Homo sapiens: one gene and its partners. The protein of the gene in region 2 interacts with the protein of the main gene of each other region in a pairwise test. Each region holds a gene or a part of one and is shown on either strand. Other genes may lie near its edges.

The links.
Region 1: the proteins of PROM1 (region 2) and IFITM1 interact in a protein complementation assay, tested with the Homo sapiens proteins (one study listed by IntAct).
Region 3: the proteins of PROM1 (region 2) and TMEM165 interact in a protein complementation assay, tested with the Homo sapiens proteins (one study listed by IntAct).

What each region holds. Positions count from the first base shown.
Region 1 is NC_000011.10:309,682-315,774, reverse strand, and holds IFITM1 (interferon-induced transmembrane protein 1), read right to left. Parts: upstream 1,736-6,093; 5' UTR 1,605-1,735; coding exon 1,419-1,604; intron 854-1,418; coding exon 662-853; 3' UTR 503-661; downstream 1-502.
Region 2 is NC_000004.12:16,074,015-16,081,043, forward strand, and holds part of PROM1 (prominin-1 isoform 1 precursor), read right to left. Parts: intron 4,290-7,029; exon of another isoform or gene 2,414-4,289; intron 2,105-2,413; 5' UTR 1,893-2,104; coding exon 1,673-1,892; intron 1-1,672. UniProt on the Homo sapiens protein: May play a role in cell differentiation, proliferation and apoptosis. Binds cholesterol in cholesterol-containing plasma membrane microdomains and may play a role in the organization of the apical plasma membrane in epithelial cells.
Region 3 is NC_000004.12:55,398,930-55,405,958, reverse strand, and holds part of TMEM165 (putative divalent cation/proton antiporter TMEM165 precursor), read right to left. Parts: intron 2,724-7,029; exon of another isoform or gene 2,639-2,723; coding exon of another isoform or gene 2,621-2,638; intron 1-2,620. UniProt on the Homo sapiens protein: Putative divalent cation:proton antiporter that exchanges calcium or manganese ions for protons across the Golgi membrane.

The sequences.
Region 1 (6,093 bases), on a different chromosome or scaffold from region 2:
TGCCCTCCCAGGCCCTCGCGAGCGCCCCACCCTCGGGCCATTGGCTGCCCCCACCCCAGGGGAGCAGGGAAGATGCCGGCTGGACTGGAGGAGGCAGCTGCTAGGATCCAGCACACCTGGATCACCCAGGAGAGGCTGCAGCCCTGAGGTTCCTTCAGCTGCTACCCTAGGAACAAAGCCCCTGCCCCTCCCACAGGGCCTAAGGTGCACACATCTGCAAGACCAGCTGCCCAGCCAGCTCAGAGGCAGGTTGTCCTGGCCCAAAGGTATTCTGGACAGTGTGTCCTTACCTTGGTGTCAGAGAAATGCCCACCCCACGTTCCTGGTCCAGATGCTGCCCACAGCAGGAGGCGGAAACCAGCAGATTCTGAGCATATCCCTGCTCCCCTGAGAGCTTCACAGAGGAGGGATACGGCTGTGCAGGGGCTGAGCACTGGGCTGTCTCAGGACTAGGCCGGGACCCCTCAGCAGGGCCCCCACTCCAGATGAAGTCACAGCATCATCACAAGCACGTGCACTTTATTGAATGACACTGTAGACAGGTGTGTGGGTATAAACTGCTGTATCTAGGGGCAGGACCAAGGGGGCAGGGGCAACAGCCCCAGCGTGCAGGGCCAGCATTGCACAGTGGAGTGCAAAGGTTGCAGGCTATGGGCGGCTACTAGTAACCCCGTTTTTCCTGTATTATCTGTAACATAATATGGTAGACTGTCACAGAGCCGAATACCAGTAACAGGATGAATCCAATGGTCATGAGGATGCCCAGAATCAGGGCCCAGATGTTCAGGCACTTGGCGGTGGAGGCATAGGCCTGGGCCCCGGTCACGTCGCCAACCATCTTCCTGTCCCTAGACTGGGGGAGAGGAGATGGTGAGGGGACCAGGATCCCCCAGCTGAGAGCCGCGTGCTATGGCTCCGTCTCCTCCCCGCCCTGAGATCAGGGACCACCTCCTCCCCTTCCTCACCCGGGCTCAGACTCTCCAGGAGCCTCGGGGCTCATCCTCCTTCTGCCTTGGCCCCAGCACAGGCTGTTCTCCCCACCATGGGGTGAAGTCACCTGTGAGTTCCCTTCTCACTTTCTGGGAGAGCCTGGGTGCCAGTCTGGAAGGTGAGGGTGTAATTTCTTACTGGGCTATAGGGAGAATTGCTCTGGGCTAATGGATAGCCAGGGACAGACTCTGAGCCAGCCAGCCAGCCTCCTGGAGCCTCCTCCTAGACCTGCACTGGGCAGATTCCCCAAAGCCACACACACACACAGATCACACAGACAAAGCTACTGACGTGAGCACACACGGGGCAGAGGTGCACACAAACTCACAGTCACAGGGACACACAAGTCCCCACCCCAGGCAGCATGTGGGCAGGTGGAGCCCCAGGCTCACCGGCACCCCCTGGATTTCCGCCAGGGCCATACGCACCTTCACGGAGTAGGCGAATGCTATGAAGCCCAGACAGCACCAGTTCAAGAAGAGGGTGTTGAACAGGGACCAGACGACATGGTCGGGCACGGAGGTCTCGCTGTGGATGTTGATCACGGTGGACCTTGGAAGGATGGTGCTGGGGGGTGGCCCCAGCACAGCCACCTCATGTTCCTCCTTGTGCATCTTCTGGCTTTGGGGAAGGAAGTGTTGAGTGAAGGTTTGAGAAGTGTGGTTTTCTGCGTGGAGCGAAGGGCCGCTGTGGTGTCCGGATGCTGGGACGGTGCTCAGTGAGACCTCCTTTCCCCTGTCGTTTCAGTTTCTCAGAAGTGTGTATTTCTCTTAAGTTTCTATTTCCTGCTGTTTGTAAATTGGTGAATTAGCCAGGGACCAATGAGGTGTGGTTTAACTTCTTGAGGATCAAATTACTTTATGGCAGGGTGGGAGGAAAGGCTGAAGGCTAAGGAGAGAGGCTTCCTCATCAGAAACTCAAGTCAGGACTAGTGACTTCCTAAGTGTTGGGTTTAGGGGGCCCTGGGGATTTTACCCAGGCTTGGGTTCTGTCCACCCCAGGCCAGCAAGTACAGGACCTCACTGTCCCGGTTCAGGGCCCCTGCCAGGCCCCCACACTCCAGGCGCCAGGACAATCCCCCAAAAGCCCTCACCTCACTTGTCGCAGGCCTCTCTCCTGAAATCCTTGCTCTTTCCTCAGGCTGCAGTCCTGCTCTGTGCGGGTTTGGGGACTAAACCTCCCAGTGTCTCCTGGTGCAGGTCAGAGGCCTGGTGGCCAAAGTTTCCTGCCCCAAAGCAGCCCTCCAGGCCCAGGAACGGGGACTCTGGGGAGAACTGACTCCCCAGAGGGTAGTGTGTTGAGACACGGGGAGGATTCCAGGGCCTGTAGGGGCAGCTTCAGAGCACAGGGCACACATGTGCCACCCCCTACCTTCCGGGTCCCAGCAATTCCCATGGCTTTGGTTGGGGTGAGTGCTGGATGACCTAGGCGTTGGGTCCTAGCCATGCAGGAGAGACCTGGAGGGTTGGCAAAGCCAAGTCTGGGGCTGTCAGGCCTGGGTGCCCCTTCACAGGGACGGGGAATTGTAGACTGAGTAGCAGAAGGGAGCCCTCAGGCACAAGGATCATGAATTACAAATTGCAAATTACATAAAGGAAAAATCAGAGCCCAAAGGTGGGCCTGCAATTATTAATGTAATGTTCTTAAGTTCTCTTTCTGCTTTCGTTTCTGCCTGCTTTAAGTCTGCTGTTACTTTTCTACAGAGATAAAATCCACTGTTTGCATCCAACCATTTCTTTTTATTGTTTGTGTAAACCAATGAATTTGTATTACTATCTCATGGCTGGAGTTCTGAAGTAAAACCATACTTTTGCTTGAGTGTGTATGTGTGTATATGTGCACATACACATATTTCGTTATGTGTTTTTGGCCACAAGTTACCAAATTTAGCTTAAACTTAAAGAGTACTCATAAATTAAATAATAAGCCTAAATGCTTTTCACGTTCATGTGACTTAAGTAGAATCTTTAATAAGCTAGCTTTAAAATTACTGGTAACGTTAGAAATTGTAGCAGGACGAGCCACAGACAAAACCCTCAGACATCGAGTTGAGGAAAGAAAGGGCTTTATTTGGCCTTTATTCGGCCAGGAGCATCAGCAGACTTAACATCTCAAACACCGAGCTCCAAAACCATCAGCCCCTCCCTACCCATTGCAGCTAAAAAAAAAAAAAAAGAACTAGCCCTTGCCCTTGCTTGGAGTCCCTGCTGGGCCTCCCCAAATCGCACACCAACCCCCCCACCCTCCACCCACCCCTCAACAGGCCGCCTCCAGCCCCAGCCACATCCCAGGCCACTTAGACCAAACTATGTCTGGGTCCCGGCAAGCCAGGGGTGGATGTGGATGGAGCGTGCTCTGAGACATCGAGGACTGCCTACACAAACTCCTCACAAGGCTCTGTGACCTCCTATCAAAGGCCACACATCACTGCGGAGTGGGGTGGGGCTTGAATTTCCCGTGGAAGGTATTTTGGAAGCTTCTTTAAATCACGGGCAGTTTAGGAAGGAAGAAACTGCAGGGCACAAGAGGGAGACAGGATTCTGAGGGGCAGGCATGGAACTGAAACCACCTTTGCAAAAGTCATAACTGAGAATATGATGACAGTGAAGGAGGTCTGACCCTAACCCACTCCGCCTGGCTTCTAACCTCCAAGCTGCCCTTGCTCATCCCTGGGCTTAGCCTAAACTAATCTGGAGAGAAACAGTTTATAGATCAAGGCTGAACAAGCCCCCTTCCTACCTGAGGACCAGACTGCCTTTGCAGGACTAACAAATTAGCCACAAGATTAGAAATTATGGTTTAGGAGTCACGCGGCTGGAGGATGCAAGATTCTGACCCCGCCACCCCTAAATTGCTCCCGGGGATCACAGCACTACTGTAGAACCTAGGATCAGAGTTTGAGATACTTTACAGACCCTGTACTCAATGGATCAGCTGGCACCACCTAAATCCACAATCTTGCTCATGTGGTCCTGTGGCCCCCACCGAGGAGCTGGGTTAGGGTTGGGAAGACAGCTTCGACTCCCCAAGACTTCATCTCCAACCGGACCGGTCAGCGCTCCTGACTCACTGGCCGCCTACCCACCATATCATCCTTCGAAACTCGGATCCCCACGTTTTTGGGGAGAAGGATTTGAGTAATAATAAAACTCCCGTCTCCCCCGCAGCCGGCTCTGCGTGAATTACACTTTCCTTATTGCGATTCCCCTGCCCCGATGCGACCAAGGGGCCCGCCCAGGAGCGCAGAGAATCCATTAAGGGGTCACAGGACCGGGCTCCCAGGGTGACTCCCTGGCCACCAAGTCCTCCAGCAGGTCACTCCTGGATTCCGGCTGGACCCCCTGCCCAGGGAGGGGCCCAGGAGACGCGGAAATCGGGTCCCCCGCGGGTGAAGGGGAGGTGGGAGCCCCAGAGGAGGGCGGGAAGGCTCGGCCGGGGACGTGCCCGAGGGGGAGGAGAGGGGCTCCCGTCCGGGTCCGGCGCTGCGGGTCTCAGGGTCCGCGTCCCGCCCACCCCGCGGGGGTCTGGGCTGCGGGCGGAGCCTCCTCCGGGACCTGCACCTGCGCCGGCCGCCGCCAGGGGCGCCGCTGAGCACCCGCCTCCGCCGCTTCCCCCTCCCCGCCGGGCGGGGCCGCGCGCCTCCCACCCGGGACCCACTTCGGAGTTCGCCCCCTTCGGGACTCGCCTCCGGGAGACCCCCGAGGGGGAGAGGGCGCTTCCTCCGCGTCCATCGCCCTTGCCGCCCCTGGGGTGAGAGCGCGGCTCCGGGGCTGGGGGCGGGAAAGGGTGGGGAGGGCGAGTAGATCCAGACCTGGAGTCGCGGGTGGACGGCGGGGCGGGGGCGCGCATGGCCACCCCAGCTCCCACCGCGGCCGCCCATGGGGCACCCCACATGCGCACACCGGAGACCGAACCGGGGAAGGGCGCTGTAACCAGGTCGGGGCGGGGGTGTCTGTCCGGGGGCTCAGACCCGGGTAGAGGTAACTTAGATGAGGGTCGCTCCACTCTCCTGCGCCGCCCCCACCACGGGGGAGCAGGGCCCATACCCGCTGGACGGGAGGGGGCAGCTGCCACGAAGCAGCACCTGGTCACCCAGGAGGGGCTGCGAGGCCCGGGGCTCCTTCAGCTGCTGCCCTGGGCACAAAGCCCCCTCCCTCCCACGGGCCCTGAGCTGCCCACATCTGCAGGACTGGCTGCTCCAGACAGCTCGGAGGCAGGCAGCGCGGTGCCCCCTCCACCCCCGAGGAACTAAAGCCAGGTCCCCAGCACCACAGAGCAGGGCCTGGGAGCAGCTGGGGAGCCGGTGCCACCTTGCCCCTCCCTGGCCCTGCTGGGGGCTTAACCCTTCCCTCTGTCCTGAGCCGACAGCCTGGATTGCCGACAGGCCGCGAGCGTGGCCTTGGGCCCAGGGTGTCCCGGACTCAGCACTGACGTTCCCGGAAAGAGCCCACGTTGAGTAGGAGCTGAGACCTGCAGGACACAGGAACTCCTCCCAGGGTCCTGGATCCAGCTGCTGCTCACGGCAGGAGGCCCGAAACCAGAAGGCCTGAGCACTTGCCCCGTCCCCAAGAGATGCACAGAGGCTGGAAGGGGCAGTGCAGGGGCTGACCAACCTGCTCATGAAAGGAGGGTCCAGCTGGGCTTCCTGGGTCGAGTAGGGGTTCAGAAAGCTGTGAAACACTCATTTCCTGCATCAGGACTTACTTCGGTCCTGGATGAAGAGTACTGAAGATACATGCCTAAAATATTCCTAACACCAGGATTTGTGCATGTGTTTCCTTCCCCAAGAAAGCTATAAACAGCAAAAATTCTGCTGTAAGCTTCCCTGTGTCCTCTCTCCCTCTCTTCCTTCCCCCTCCCCTAAAACTAAAAGGAATGTTAAAAGACCCTTTTTCTGTGACCAGCGGACCTTATCTATGCTCCCAATTCCAATTCCTTGTGAACATACTTTGTAAAGTCCTGTAAAATCCTGTCTCTTTTGCCATGCTGCTGCAAGGTCATAAAGTAGATAAAATTAGATAAAACCTAAGTTGCAATTCTGTTTTTCCTCAAAATCTAAGACATGTCACAAAATAATTTACTGCCTTTGTTTCTCTCTCTGGT
Region 2 (7,029 bases):
TTTTGAGGAAATGATTGTAAATTCATATTCGACAACTGAATTCTATGCCTTTTATATTAAAACAAAACCAAGAAGCAAAGACTAAAAACATTAGTAGGAAACTAGTTTAAAAGGATGAATAAGACCTAGTATCTGATAGCACAACAGGATGACTATAGTCAATAATAATGTAATTGTACATTTTGAAATAACTAAAAGAGTAATTGGATTGTTTGTAACACAAAGAATAAATGTTTGAGGAGATAGATACACCATTTTATATGATGTGATTATTACACATTGCATGTCTGTATCAAAATATCTCTTGTACCCCGTGAATATATACACCTACTAGGTACCGACAAAAATTAAAGAGTTTTTTTAAATAAAAATGTTAGTAGGTTATTTTATTCAGTAACACATATTAAGTCTCCAAATAAGCCAAGAGATGTCTATTCAGAAGAGTGAATTTGCATCCAATGTTAAGAAATAAACTCTAATTTTCTACTTCTGTCTTTGGAATTTCCAAAGTTAGTATTTTTAACAGCAACATAAACAGTAAGTAGCATTCGTTCAGGATTCTCTTCAATGCCAATAACCATTCAAAGAGATTTGTTTTGGTGAACTGAAATTTAAATTAGCAAAAATTGACAACTATACTTCAAGCTGTTTTAATTGCCCTAAGACAAATAAGTGTTAAAAAACCAATACAAATGTATTTTAATGAAAATATATAAACTCCCCATAATATAAACATGTGATGATATTCACTAAATACATCCTGTCTCTCTTCCTCCCTCTCTCTCACACACAGGCATGTACACACACCAGTAGGACTCTTACAAACAGTAGCTGAACAGCTAAGGAAAATGATAAGAAAGATTACAGCGAATTCTATAATCAATGATTGTAATCAAATCTTTGTAACTAAAAGAACAGGCTTAGGATGGACTTACTGTTAAGCCAATCAAAAATTTAGGTGCCAAACCCTAGTAGCAGATATTTCCCACAGGCTATTTTTACTTTCATAATCCCTTTTCTATGAACACATACCCTGAATTCAGAAGAGTATGGAAAACAACAAACATTAAGAAGGCGAAAATGACAAACAGCACTGTGTGTGATGAATAACAGCACTATGGCATGACAGTTCTGGAAAGTGCCAATCCTCTTCCTCACACCCAAGCTCTTAGAAATGAAGAAAACAGCTGATCAAGTAAACATGTTTGTCCTTACCCTAAGCAATGTCAAAATTTGCATATTGTGGTGGGCAGAAGAGAGTTAAATTTTTAAGCGATGAGGTGGCCATCAGTTGCTAGTTATTCGTTTCTCCTTTGATGACACACAATTTGCATTTTTACCCTAACTTTACTCTAACTTTTACCTTTGGTAAGTGCCTTAGAATAATTCATTGCTCTAACCCAAACAAAGCAAAACCAAGCAAAACAAAAGGTAAAGAAGTGGAAAACCAACATAGCAACATCGTTTGCTTCCATTTCTTATAATAACATTCCTCGCAACCTATGTAACCTGGTACAAGTCTTCTTAACTTCTGTCTAAATGCTTTCTGCTTCTGTGCAAAGCAATCGCTAAAATACTGAATATATTATATATTGATTGCATTGACATTAAAAAACAATATTGTGGGTGCGTTTGGAGATAAATCCTATCTTTCCCTGCCATCAGCACTTACCTTCTGGGAAATCACGCGGCTGTACCACATAGAGAAAGATATGCACTAGTTCAAAGAGAATGCCAATGGGTCCAGCTTTATGGGAGTCTTGGGTCTCATAATTTGTTGCAGGCAATTCATAATTCCAAGCCTTAGGAGCATCTGTGGATGAAGGCTGCCCTCCTGAAAAGGAGTTCCCGCACAGCCCCAGCAGCAACAGGGAGCCGAGTACGAGGGCCATAGCTAGCAAGATCCTCCAAACATGAGGTAGAACTTGGTGCCTCCTGCCTCAGAGCTTCTGGAAGCCTTGGGGAAGGCAAGCGTGTTCCTGGGCAGAAGAGGAGCAGGAAGCACTGGATCTGCTGAATCTTCAGTTTTCTGTCTGAGGCTGGCTTGAGGCGAGGGATGCGGAAGAATGTTCTCCAAGGGGGTCATTCACTCAAGGCACCATCCCTGGCAGGGAGAGAAACAGCAGCAGAGTCATCAATGCGTGTAAACTGCCTGCACCTGGAGCTGCCCGGAGAGGACGCTGCAAAGCTTTAGAGCAAGGCCTCCAGCCTAATCCGGATGGGTGGGTGGAAACCAAGCACACAACCTGCTCCAGAGCCACAGGGCAGGTGCTGGCATCAAAGCCATGACTCACAGAAGGTCCCTTCTCAGGAGGGCCAGACTCAGAACACAGACCCTTTATGGGTTCGGGAAATACTAAATATTGTAGAGAAAGCTTGAGATCTTGGAAACTAACATTTATTGAGCACTTACTATCTTCCAGGCACTGTTCTCCATGCTTCATAGATAGAAACAAGGTCCTCCTTGTTTAAGGCATTATTCCATTTTGCAGATGAGGAAACTGACACAGAGAGGATTCTGGTGACTTGCCCAAGGTCACAGGTGATTAACCATGTGGCCAAGAGTCAAACCCACTAGTTTGCCTTCAAAGTCCAAGATCTAACTATGACATCAAGACACTGTCCCTTCAGTGCCCTCCCTAATGTGGGGAAAAGAAAGAGAGATCAGATTGTTACTGTGTCTGTGTAGAAAGAAGTAGACATAGGAGACTCCATTTTGTTCTGTACTAAGAGAAATTCTTCAGCTTGAGATGCTGTTAATCTATAACCTTACCCCCAACCCCGTGCTCTCTGAAACATGTGCTGTGTCCACTCACGGTTAAATGGATTAAGGGCTGTGCAAGATGTGCTTTGTTAAACAGATGCTTGAAGGCAGCATGCTCGTTAAGAGTCATCACCACTCCCTAATCTCAACTACCCAGGGACACAAACATTGCGGAAGGCCGGAAGACCGCAGGGACCTCTGCCTAGGAAAGCCAGGTATTGTCCAAGGTTTCTCCCCATGTGATAGTCTGAAATATGGCCTCGTGGGAAGGGAAAGACCTGACTGTCCCCCAGCCCGACACCCGTAAAGGGTCTGTGCTGAGGAGCATTAGTATAAGAGGAAGGCATGCCTCTTGCAGTTGAGACAAGAGGAAGGCATCTGTCTCCTGCCCGTCCCTGGGCAATGGAATGTCTCGGTATAAAACCCGATTGTATGTTCCATCTACTGAGATAGGGGAAAACCGCCTTAGGGCTGGAGGTGGGACATGCGGGCAACAATGCTGCTCTGTAAGGCATTGAGATGTTTATGGGTATGCATATCTAAAGCACAGCACTTAATTCTTTACCTTGTCTATGATGCAGAAACCTTTGTTCACGTGTTTATCTGCTGACCTTCTCTCCACTATTATCCTGTGACCCTGCCACATCCCCCTCTCTGAGAAACACCCAAGAATGATCAATAAATACTAAGGGAACTCAGAGGCCAGGATGGATCCTCCGTACGCTGAACGCTGGTCCCCTGGGCCCCCTTATTTCTTTCTCTATACTTTGTCTCTGTGTCTTTTTCTTTTCCAAGTCTCTCGTTCCACCTAACGAGAAACACCCACAGGTGTGGAGGGGCAACCCACCCCTTCAATTAACCATGCGGCCAAGAGTCAAACCCACTAGTTTGCCTTCAAAGTCCAAGATCTAACTATGACATCAAGACACTGTCCCTTCAGTGCCCTCCCTCTCAGGCTCTAGTACGAGCCACTGGGGCCCCAGCAATCCAGTACATGCTTATATGCTTATTTCTTCTCCAAGTGTGTGTTGTTCTCTTTGCCGCTGGAGATATATCTTACTCTGCCTTATATTCTACTTATTTACTCACTAATCTCATTTCAAACATCCCCCTCTCCACCTCACCCCGAATCCAAAGTAGAAGGGCATGGCCTCAAGTCTAGGGACCACACCGTTTGAGGCTGGACACATGTGCAACACTGGAACCTGTCTTTCTAATAAGCTTACCAAGTAATCCTGATGGAAATCTTCACCCTAAGTCACCACCTCTACAACTAGGGGTCTCAGAGATGAAAGCCAGGGCAGAGGGAGACTCTTACCTACCCCTTGGGAGACGGAGAAAGACACAAGAATCCTAAAAGCAGCTGTGGCTCCAGCATCTGGGAAGGGAATGGGACAGAAAGTGCCTCCAAGATGGACTCTGTCCTACTCTTCTTTCAATCCCCAGACCTTAACACTGGGCATGGCACGTAGTCGGTGTTTAGTAAGTGCCTGCTGAGCAGCTTGTTTCACTCATGGCACCATCCCTGGCAGGGAAAGAAATAGCAGCAGAGTCACCAATGCATGTAACCTGCCTGCAGCAAGAAGTGCCCCAGACAGGAGGCTGCAAAGCTTTAGAGCAGGGCCTTCAGCCTAATCCAGGTAGGTGGGTGGAAACCAAACACAGCCTGCTCCAGAGCTACAGGGCAAGTGCTGGCGTAGAAGCCAAAATATGTTATTTCCTTGTGCGGTTTCATGAGACTAGGCAAATCAGCACAGAACCTGGAAGGATCCCAAGTGTACCACTCTTCCTCTCTGTATTAAGTGTCCTGGAGCAAGAGCAAGCTGCTGTCACTTTGTGAGCTAGATACATACTTACTAACTTTCAAGATAAGTACAGGGTGCTCCTGAAACACATACTGTAAGAAAGGGAAGGGGGATGATGAAGAAGGTGACATACTTTGCAAGAAGCCAGAGGACCCACTACCAATATTCCAAGTCAAAGAAAGCTTTGGACAACAGATGGGATTTCTTGAGCTATTTGAACAAAGATGTTAATTCATATCTAATCCCTCCATTGCCTCATCTTCTAAGTCCTGTCCCACTCCAATTACTCCTGCACAAAGCTACCAATACAAGGGCCCCAAATTCTTCCTTTGTCAAATCATGGGCTGCTCAGATCCCAAGTGGCTGCCAGTACTAACCTCAGGCCCACGCTTCAGGTTACGCCCACCGTCACATCCACAATAGACACCTTGACCCTGGTGTTTCCAAAGGGCTCCCTTCAAACATCTACTGCAAGCACAACACACCACATGTACACTTTATCTTGGTTTTTTTTTTTGCTAAAGGACAGGCAGAGAGCTAAGCCTCCAGCACAGCAGCTGGAAGGATTAAAGGCTCAGATGCTGAGAAGGCCCACTTTCTGGTAATTCCACCAAACCTCAGCCCAGGACAGAGAGAAACTGCCAAGGGAAGAACTATGAACAAACAGGCTCTCCAACTCCCTCAGTGACAAAGCAGGGGAAGGGAAATTCCCAGTGAAGTGAAACATAACTGCTCACCGCAGCAAAGATGGGAGACAATGACTTGAGATAGACAGCAACTGCAGTTGCACTTCCAGATTTCTTTACATCTTGCTCCAAAATGTAGGTCCCTCTGAAGTTTTAAAGTACATTTTAAGAAAGTATTAATATCTCACTAACTATGAAATACTAGAAACTGATTAAAGTCAAGTCAAAGAGGAAGAGTTTTTTATCTCGGGTTTAATAGGTTGTGCCAAAAACAGAAGCTCTGAGTATTTACCAGCTAAACCCCACTAGGTCCGAGAGCCACTGAGAGTAGCATCTGTCTCGGGATAAAATGGGGTGTTTAGTTGAAATGCAGACTATTAATGGACCTAATTTCTGGGATGAAACCCATTAATCTGCATTTTTAACAAGCTTTCCTGGGGACTGATCCTTCAAACAAAGTTTGAGAACAGTTCTGTTCCTGGAGTACTCTGATCCTGGAGTACCCGCCTAGTCAATTCATGTCACTTTCCAAGGACACTTCAGGCTTCCCAAACACATTGGAAAATAACACATGTAAGGTGAAAGCTCCCCAAATGCCCTTTTCATATTGCTTTGAATTGATCTACCCCAGCTGCTGTGCAGGTCCCTGGCTTATTTCTGTATCCCCAGAGCCTGGAACACAGTTGGTACTCAATGAAGAATTGCTACCAGCCTGGGCAACATAGAGAGGCCCTGTCTCTACAAAAAAAAAAAAAAAAAAAAAAAAAATTTAAATTAGCAAACGTAGTGGTGCACAACTGTAGTCCCAGCTACTCGGAAGTCTGAAGCAGGAGGATTACTTGAGTCCAGGAAGCTGAGCCTGTAGTGAGCCATAATCATACCACTGCACTCCAGCCTGGGCGACCTTACATGATTTTGAGCCTGGAGTCCAGAGAACTGCATTTCAATACTGGTTTAAAAGCAAATATGGCCCGGGCGTGGTGGCTCAAGCCTGTAATCCCAGCATTTTGGGAGGCCGAGGCGGGCGGATCACGAGGTCAGGAGATCGAGACCATCCTGGCTAACATGGTGAAACCCTGTCTCTACTAAAAATACAAAAAAAATTAGCCAGGTGTGGTGGTGCACACCTGTAGTCCCAGCTACTCGGGAGGCTGAGGCAGGAGAATCACTTGAACCCGGGAGGCGGAGGTTGCAGTGACCTGAGATCATGCCACTGCACTCCAGCCTGGGTGACAGAGACTCCATCTCAAAAAAAAAAATTAAAAATGAAAAAGCAAATATGGTGATCAATCACCTTCATTTCTTCTTTTCTTCTTTTGATGGAACTTCTCAGAATCTTTCTTTTTAAAGAAGAGCTTTGTAGTGGATTTTTGTCATCTGGAGTGCTTTTGGCGGGGGCATGGGGGATACCCAACATCTGAGACCACGTTTGTGAGCTGGGTGGGAGGCAGCCCTGCCTTGCATTGTGAGGTCAGCTGAGGCGCCCAAACTGTGTCCTGGTGGAGCTGAGCCATGCTGGGCCAATCAGAAGCTTTCTTCTGGGCCTGGGCCTGCGCACTCTGAAGCAGGACAGTATCTAATTCATTCCAGCAATGATGGCAGCAATGCCAGTAGCCACATCCAGGGTCCTGTTCTGGCAGCCGCAGCCACCCACCCATCAGGGGTCCTGTGGCATGTCCTAGATTCCTAAGCCTGGCTAGCCAGCCTTGCTGCCACTTACCTAAGCCACCCAGGGACCATCCTTTCAAGAAGTCCTTTTATATATATACATATA
Region 3 (7,029 bases), about 39 Mb from region 2:
ATATAGGCATGTTCTGAGAACAAGAAGTAAACCATCAGAAGAATGGTTGGGGCAAGATGAGAAAGATAAACTGGGCCTGAAATTCTTTATGTTTGTGGACAAGCTCAGAGGCAAGAGGGAAGTCATTACATATTTTTGTGTAACACATAAACACCATCAAGGCACTGTGACCAATTATCAGGGCAGAGTGGGGAGTATCAGCCACTGGATCAATCAGGAGGTCAGCTGCATGAAACCCGTGTTAAGACAAATAAGAGAAGGAAAAAATTCTGCACACAATGGAAAGAAAAATCACTAGACCTTTAAAAAAAGGTAGGCGGGATGGGGGGAATCAAAGATGGTGGTGAGGTTTTCTGGTTGGCAGAAATATTAGTACTCTTAAAACGCTATTATGTATTTAGTACTCTTAAAAGGTATGTCGGAAAGGGGAATAAAAACAAGGGGTTTGGTTTCATATACATTCCACTTGGGGTGATAAAAAGCATTTCAAATGAAGGTTTGAAAGAGGTTATCAGAAATGGATCACCAGAGTTTAGCCTAGGACAGCCTCAAGGTATGTAGCCTCAAGGTTGACAGCCTTCGTGTCCTCAATAGGCTCTTGGAAACTGCAACTTTAAGTGAAATGATGTAAAAGAAAACCAACTTTCTTTTCTCATCAATGTTATAATGAAACAACACTGAATTAAAATGACATCATTGATGTCATTTCACTTAAAGTGACCATTTCCAAGAATCTATTAATAACATTAAGTGAGGACGTACTCTATCTGGTTGCTGGCAGCCCAAATTTATCAGCTAAAGCTCTGCAAGTAGATGAGATTTCCAACAGATAAGGCAAAGAGATAAAGTTCAAAGAATGCGCCTTAGAGAATGTCTTTATTCAAAGAAGGTGGAGGGAGGAAAAAAAATAGGAAAAAAAACTATCTTAGATATTTCGAGCCAGGCAGCAACTAAAGCATCACAGACCGTCAGGTTGGGGTGCGCTACTAACTAGATGCGAGATATTTTCAGACACATTGTTGCATTTGATACTCAAAAAAACTTAGGAGCTGTTTTAAGTTTTAATACAGGAAAACTGAGGTCAAACGGGCTTCATTATTCTGCCAAGTTCATACACCTGAGATGGATTCTTAAACAGTAGAGAATTAACAGTGTCAAATGAGAACTGAAAAAGATCCCTGGATTTAGCAATTTGCTAACTTACAAGATTCTTTCAAAAAATGGAATTTGTGGTGGCTCATGCCTATAATCCCAGCACTTTGGGAGGCCGATGCAGGAGGACTGCTTGAGGCCAAGAGTTCGAGGCCAGCCTGGGCAACATAGTGAGACCTCATCTCCACAAAAAAAAAAAATAAAATAAATAAAATTAGCCAGGTGTGGTGGCATGCACCTGTAGTCCCAGCTACTTGGGAGGCTGAGGTGGGAGGATCACTTGAGCCCACTAGTTCCAGGCTGCAGTAAGCTATGATTGTGCCACTGAACTCCAGCCAGGGCGACAGAGCAAGACCCTATCTTTAAAATTAAAAAAAGAATTTCAAGGAAAAGGCAAGGACTGAAGCCAGATAACAACATACTAAAGTAAAGTGAAAAAGCAGCAAATCCCCTAGTTAGAAGTTTGGTTTATAAAACTGAAGAAACTAATATGGCTGGGCATGGTGGCTCACGCCTGTCATCCCAGCACTTTGGGAGGCCGAGGTGGACAGATCTGAGGTCAGGAATTCAAGAGCTGCCTGGCAAACATGATGAAACCCCATCTCTACTAAAAGTACAAAAAAAAAAAATAGCCAGGCGTGGTGGCGCACACCTGTAGTCCTAGCCACTCGGAAGGCTGAGGTTGCAGTGTGCCAAGATTGTGCCCACTGCACTCCAGGCTGGGCAACAGAGCAAGACACTGTCAAAAAAAAAAAAAAAAAGGAAAGAAAGAAGGAAGGAAGGAAGGAAGGAAAGAAAACGAAACTAATAGTCAAGTTAAGATTAAATGAATGACCTTTTTCTTTCTTTTCCAAAATAAGAGAAACATATGAACATGTGTAAGCAGATACAAAGGAAGCAATGGGAAGGGAGAGAATAAAGGCACTGAGGGAGGAGAATAGGAACGTGGACACAGAGAGGAGGTACACAAAGGATGACAGTTTTGTCCAAAACATGAAAAAGGCAGACAGTACAGGCACAGAAGAATATACTTGGATGCATACAGGATTAGATGCAGTGTGCAATTTCAATTTTGGTATTCCACTATTCAGTTATACAGTGTTATATATCATGGTAAGTAATGAGATACTAGTGTTTTGGTACAAATACCACTATTTCAGTATTTTAATAATGTCTGAAACACACCTTACTTACATCTTGAGAGCAGGATTAACAACTTAAGATTTTTTTAAAAAAACTTGCTTAATAAAAACTCTTTTCTAGTTAAAATTTTAATTCCAAATGTAAAAATTGTAAAAAAAAAAAAAAGAAAAAGAAAAAGGCACCCTCATTTAGAAAGTATTCTTTTATACTTTCATGATCCTCAAGAGAAGGAAGAAAAAGAAAATCAAAGAAAAAAGTAATTCCTTTTCTAGTTCTAGAGTTCAAATAAACACAAATGTGACTGTATTGAAATTGATACAGATACCTGCATCGGAATCTCCATCTATACATGATGAAACTAGAGAAGATGAAGATGCTTTCCTTGAAACAAAATCTACAGCTTGCTACCAAGAAAAAAACTGATGTCCCTGCAAAAAAACAGAAACAAAGTTGCTCAATAAGTTATCAAACAAGAGGTGAGATTATCTGAAGACAAAGGAGTCAGAAGAAAATGCTTACAATTTGCTTAGAACTGTCTCCTGGGCACTACTAAGTCAAAAAAGCTTTTTTTAGGGGCCGGGTGTGGTGGCTCATGCCTGTAATCCCAGCACTTTGGGAGGCCCAGGCGGGCGGATCACGAGGTCAGGAGATTGAGACCATCCTGGCTAACATGGTGAAACCCCATCTCTACTAAAAATACAAAAAATTAGCTGGGCGTGTGGCGGGCACCTGTAGTCCCAGCTACTTGGGAGGCTGACGCAGGAGAATGGCGTGAACCCGGGAGGCAGAGCTTGCAGTGAGCCGAGATCACGCCACTGCACTCCAGCCTGGGCGACAGAGCAAGACTCCGTCTCAAAAAAAAAAAAAAGCTTTTTTTAAAAGTTGTAAAAATGTGCCCAAAAATATATATGCACTTAGGCCGGGCATGGTGGCTCATGCCTGTAATCCTAGCAACTTGGGAGGCGTGGTAGGTGGATCACTCGAGGTTGGGAGCTTGAGACCAGCCTGGCCAACGTGGCAAAACCCCATCTCTACTAAAAATACAAAAATCAGCTGGGCGTGGTGGCATGCACCTGTAGTCTCAGCCACTCTGGAGGCTGAGGCATGAGAATTGCATGAACCCCGGAGACAGAGGTTGAAGTGAACCAAGATCTCACCACTGCACTCCAGCCTGGGTGACAGTGAGACTCTGTCTCAAAAAAAAAAAAAAAAAAAAAAAAAAAAAAAAAATATATATATATATATATATATATATATATACACACACACACACACGCACGCACTTAAACAATGACACCACAGATAAACCTGATTTCGAAAGATAACATTAAAGTATTTTAATTTTCATTACGTATTTTTGTGAATGGTTTCACTATTTTTAAATACTTTATTGTTACTTGTTAATTTATATTAGAATTTATATGTAATATTTTGTAATAAAATTATTTTTTGTTTTAATGAATGTTTATTTTTATGAATGTTGTTTTGTAATGTATTTATGCACTTGAAATTTATTAAATGTGTTTAGTTTCTTTTTTTTTTTTGGAGACAGAGTTTTGCTCTTGTTGCCCAGGCTGGAGGGCAGTGGCACGATCTTGGTTCACTGCAACCTCCACCTCCCGGGCTCAAGCGATTCTCCTGCCTCAGCCTCCTGAGTAGCTGGGATTACAGGTGTGTGCCACCACGCCCAGCTAATTTTTTGTATTTTCAGTAGAGATGGGGTTTCATCATGTTGGCCAGGCTGGTCTAGAACTCTTGACCTCAGGTGATCCACCCACCTCGGCCTCCCAAAGTGGAGGGATTACAAGCGTGAGCCACTGCGCCCGGCCTTCATTGATTTTATTTTTAATGAATTTTTTTGATGACAGCATACCACTAAATAAATTCAGTATTAATATAATTACCTTCTGAGAAGGTAATTATGAGCAGGCGTCCTTATAACTGATTGCCTCAATCTTAGCTGTATAAAGGCTAGAATTAGGAGGCTGGACTGGGTGGAGTGGGACTGCAACTTAATGAAAATAGAAAAAAGTTTAAAATGTTTTGTAGAAGGTACTCTCACAGCTGAAACGTAATAAATAAATGAAATACCAAAACATAAAGTAAAAATATGATAACAAGAACAGGCACTGAGTCAGGTAATGATTTTGTGGCTTTATTAGAAGTGCTATGCAACCAGAGTCATTCTTCTTTGGACTTCCAGAATATGCAATAAAGTCTAAATGACTTTTATTAAATCTATCTGATCTCCCTCAACTCAAAGGACTTATGTTTCTTATATTACATATTCTGTCCAGGGAAAGAGTAAGAAAAAACTATTGAGTAAGTCACTAGAAACATAAACTGCAGAAAAGATAGGATCCAAGTAATCAACAACACTTTTTATCATGGGTTTGTAAATTGGGGGTTAATCTTGATTTTAAGTTCATATTACTTACCAACCTTTTTTTAGCCTAATTATAGAGAAAAGCACATACTCAATGTAGAATGCCCTGTTAGAAGTTCAGTCACCTTGCTTTTAGCATCCTATAAGATACAACTAGGTTTTTATAACATATCTTCCACTTGAATGCCTACTAACCAAGGAGAGATGCTTCCCCCCTCCATTTTCAGAAGCCCACTCTCACACAGTGGCACAAAAAGGTTAAATTTAAATATCCTACCTACCCTCTTAAAACATCTACTGCATGTAGTTGCAAAGCAAATCCGTTGAAACTTACATATTCAGCAAGGCTCAACTCTTGCTAATACTGCTGTTAAACTGTACTTTGATCATTTCTTACCTCCATCAGGTGGACAAAAATAGCCAATGACACTTATATTACATAGTTTAGAAAACATGTGAAAGAAAAATCTTTCAGCATAGTGAGTACCGTAGAGGAAAAAATACTTGAGTAGTATCAAAAAGTTACATAAAAATATAATTAAGGCCAGGCGTGGTGGCTCACTCCTGTAATCCCAGCACTTTGGGAGGCCGAGGCAGGCGGATCACCAGGTCAGGAGATGGAGACCTCCTGGCTAACACGGTAAAACCTCGTCTCTACTAAAAATACAAAAAATTAGGCGGGCATGGTGGCGGGCGCCTGTAGTCCCAGCTATGCTGGAGGCTGAGGCAGGAGAATGGCGTGAGCCTGGAAGGCAGACCTTGCAGTGAGCCAAGATCACGCCACTGCACTCCAGCCTGGGCGACAGAGTGAGACAAAAAAATATATATATATTATATATATTATATTTTTATATTTTAATATAAATATATTAATTATATTAATATTATTTATTATTATTATATTAATATAATTAATTATATTAATATAATATAATTAATATTATATTATATATAATACAGTATTAATATTATATATAATATTATATATAATATATAATATTATATTATATATTATATATTAATATAATATAATATTAATTACATTAATATATTAATATATAATATAAATATAAATTATATATTTATATATTATTTTTTATATATATTATATATATAAAATAAAAACAAGACAAGGCCAGGCATGATGGCTCATGCCTGTAATCCCACCACTTTGGCAGGCCAAGAGGGGAAGATCCCTTGAGCCCAGGAGTTTGAGGGCAGGCTGAGCAACATAGTGAGACCCTGTCTCTAAAAAAAAAAAAAAGGAAGAAAAGAAGACAATTATATTCTATTATAATACAAAATTAGAATAAACAATAATAAATAAATGCCTAACTAAAATGAATCACCAAGAATATATGAAAATATTAAACGGAAAAATCATATTATATTATACCCACCCTTCCCTCCATACCCCTAGTTTTAAAGACAAGGATCCCTTCCCAGCTACTCAGAAGGCTGAGGCAGGAGGATGGCCTGAGTCCAGGAGCTGGAGGCTGCAATGAGTTATGAGCTATAAGAAGACCTTGTCTCTATAAAAAAAATTAAATAAAACTTTAAAAGACAAGAATCCTTAAGACCATTTAATATGTTTACTGGACACTGTTTCTACCACTGTGGCATTCTGCATGGCTAGATTTTTCCTAGCTTCTTAAAAAGGATATTAGTAGCTCTACACCTACCATCATTTCTATCTTAAAAATTCCAATATGACTAAAACTTCAACAAAATACCTGCAAAGTTACATATTCATAATCTCTCACTCACACAATTAACTTAATCCAAAATAGTTATTGTTTTAAAATAAATGTGATACTGGGGTAAATGACAGGGCTAAAAGATGAACACTAAGAATTAAGTTCATCAATCAGCGTTTCAGTTCAATTACTGAAGTGGACATGTCAAGCAGGGTCAGCTGAGCCAGGAGCGACAAGCAGGGCAGTGTAAATGGGAACCCCACTCCTAAGCATATGGCTGGGGGTAGCAGGGCAGGCAGAAGGAAAAAGATGGAGAAGCCCACTCACCTCTTTGCTCTCCCCAAGTGGACTAAAGACCCTGGCTTCACATGTTAAATGATTCACACTTCTTGTACACCTCTGACATCACTGCATTATATCTCTCTGTTACCATGGGTTATTTACTCGTTGAGTTCCAGTGCTTTTGATCTTCTCTTTTTCTCTTTTTAAAAAAAACTTTATAAGAGTCCCGGAATTAACTATATAGTCAGCTGAAAATAAACTGTCTAAACCAACACCAATCCAATAATGGTTACAAAATCACATTATATCCAGCAGATGATAAAAGCTTAGTTCTCTTAATTCCATCTGGTGGATCCCTTGCAACTTAAA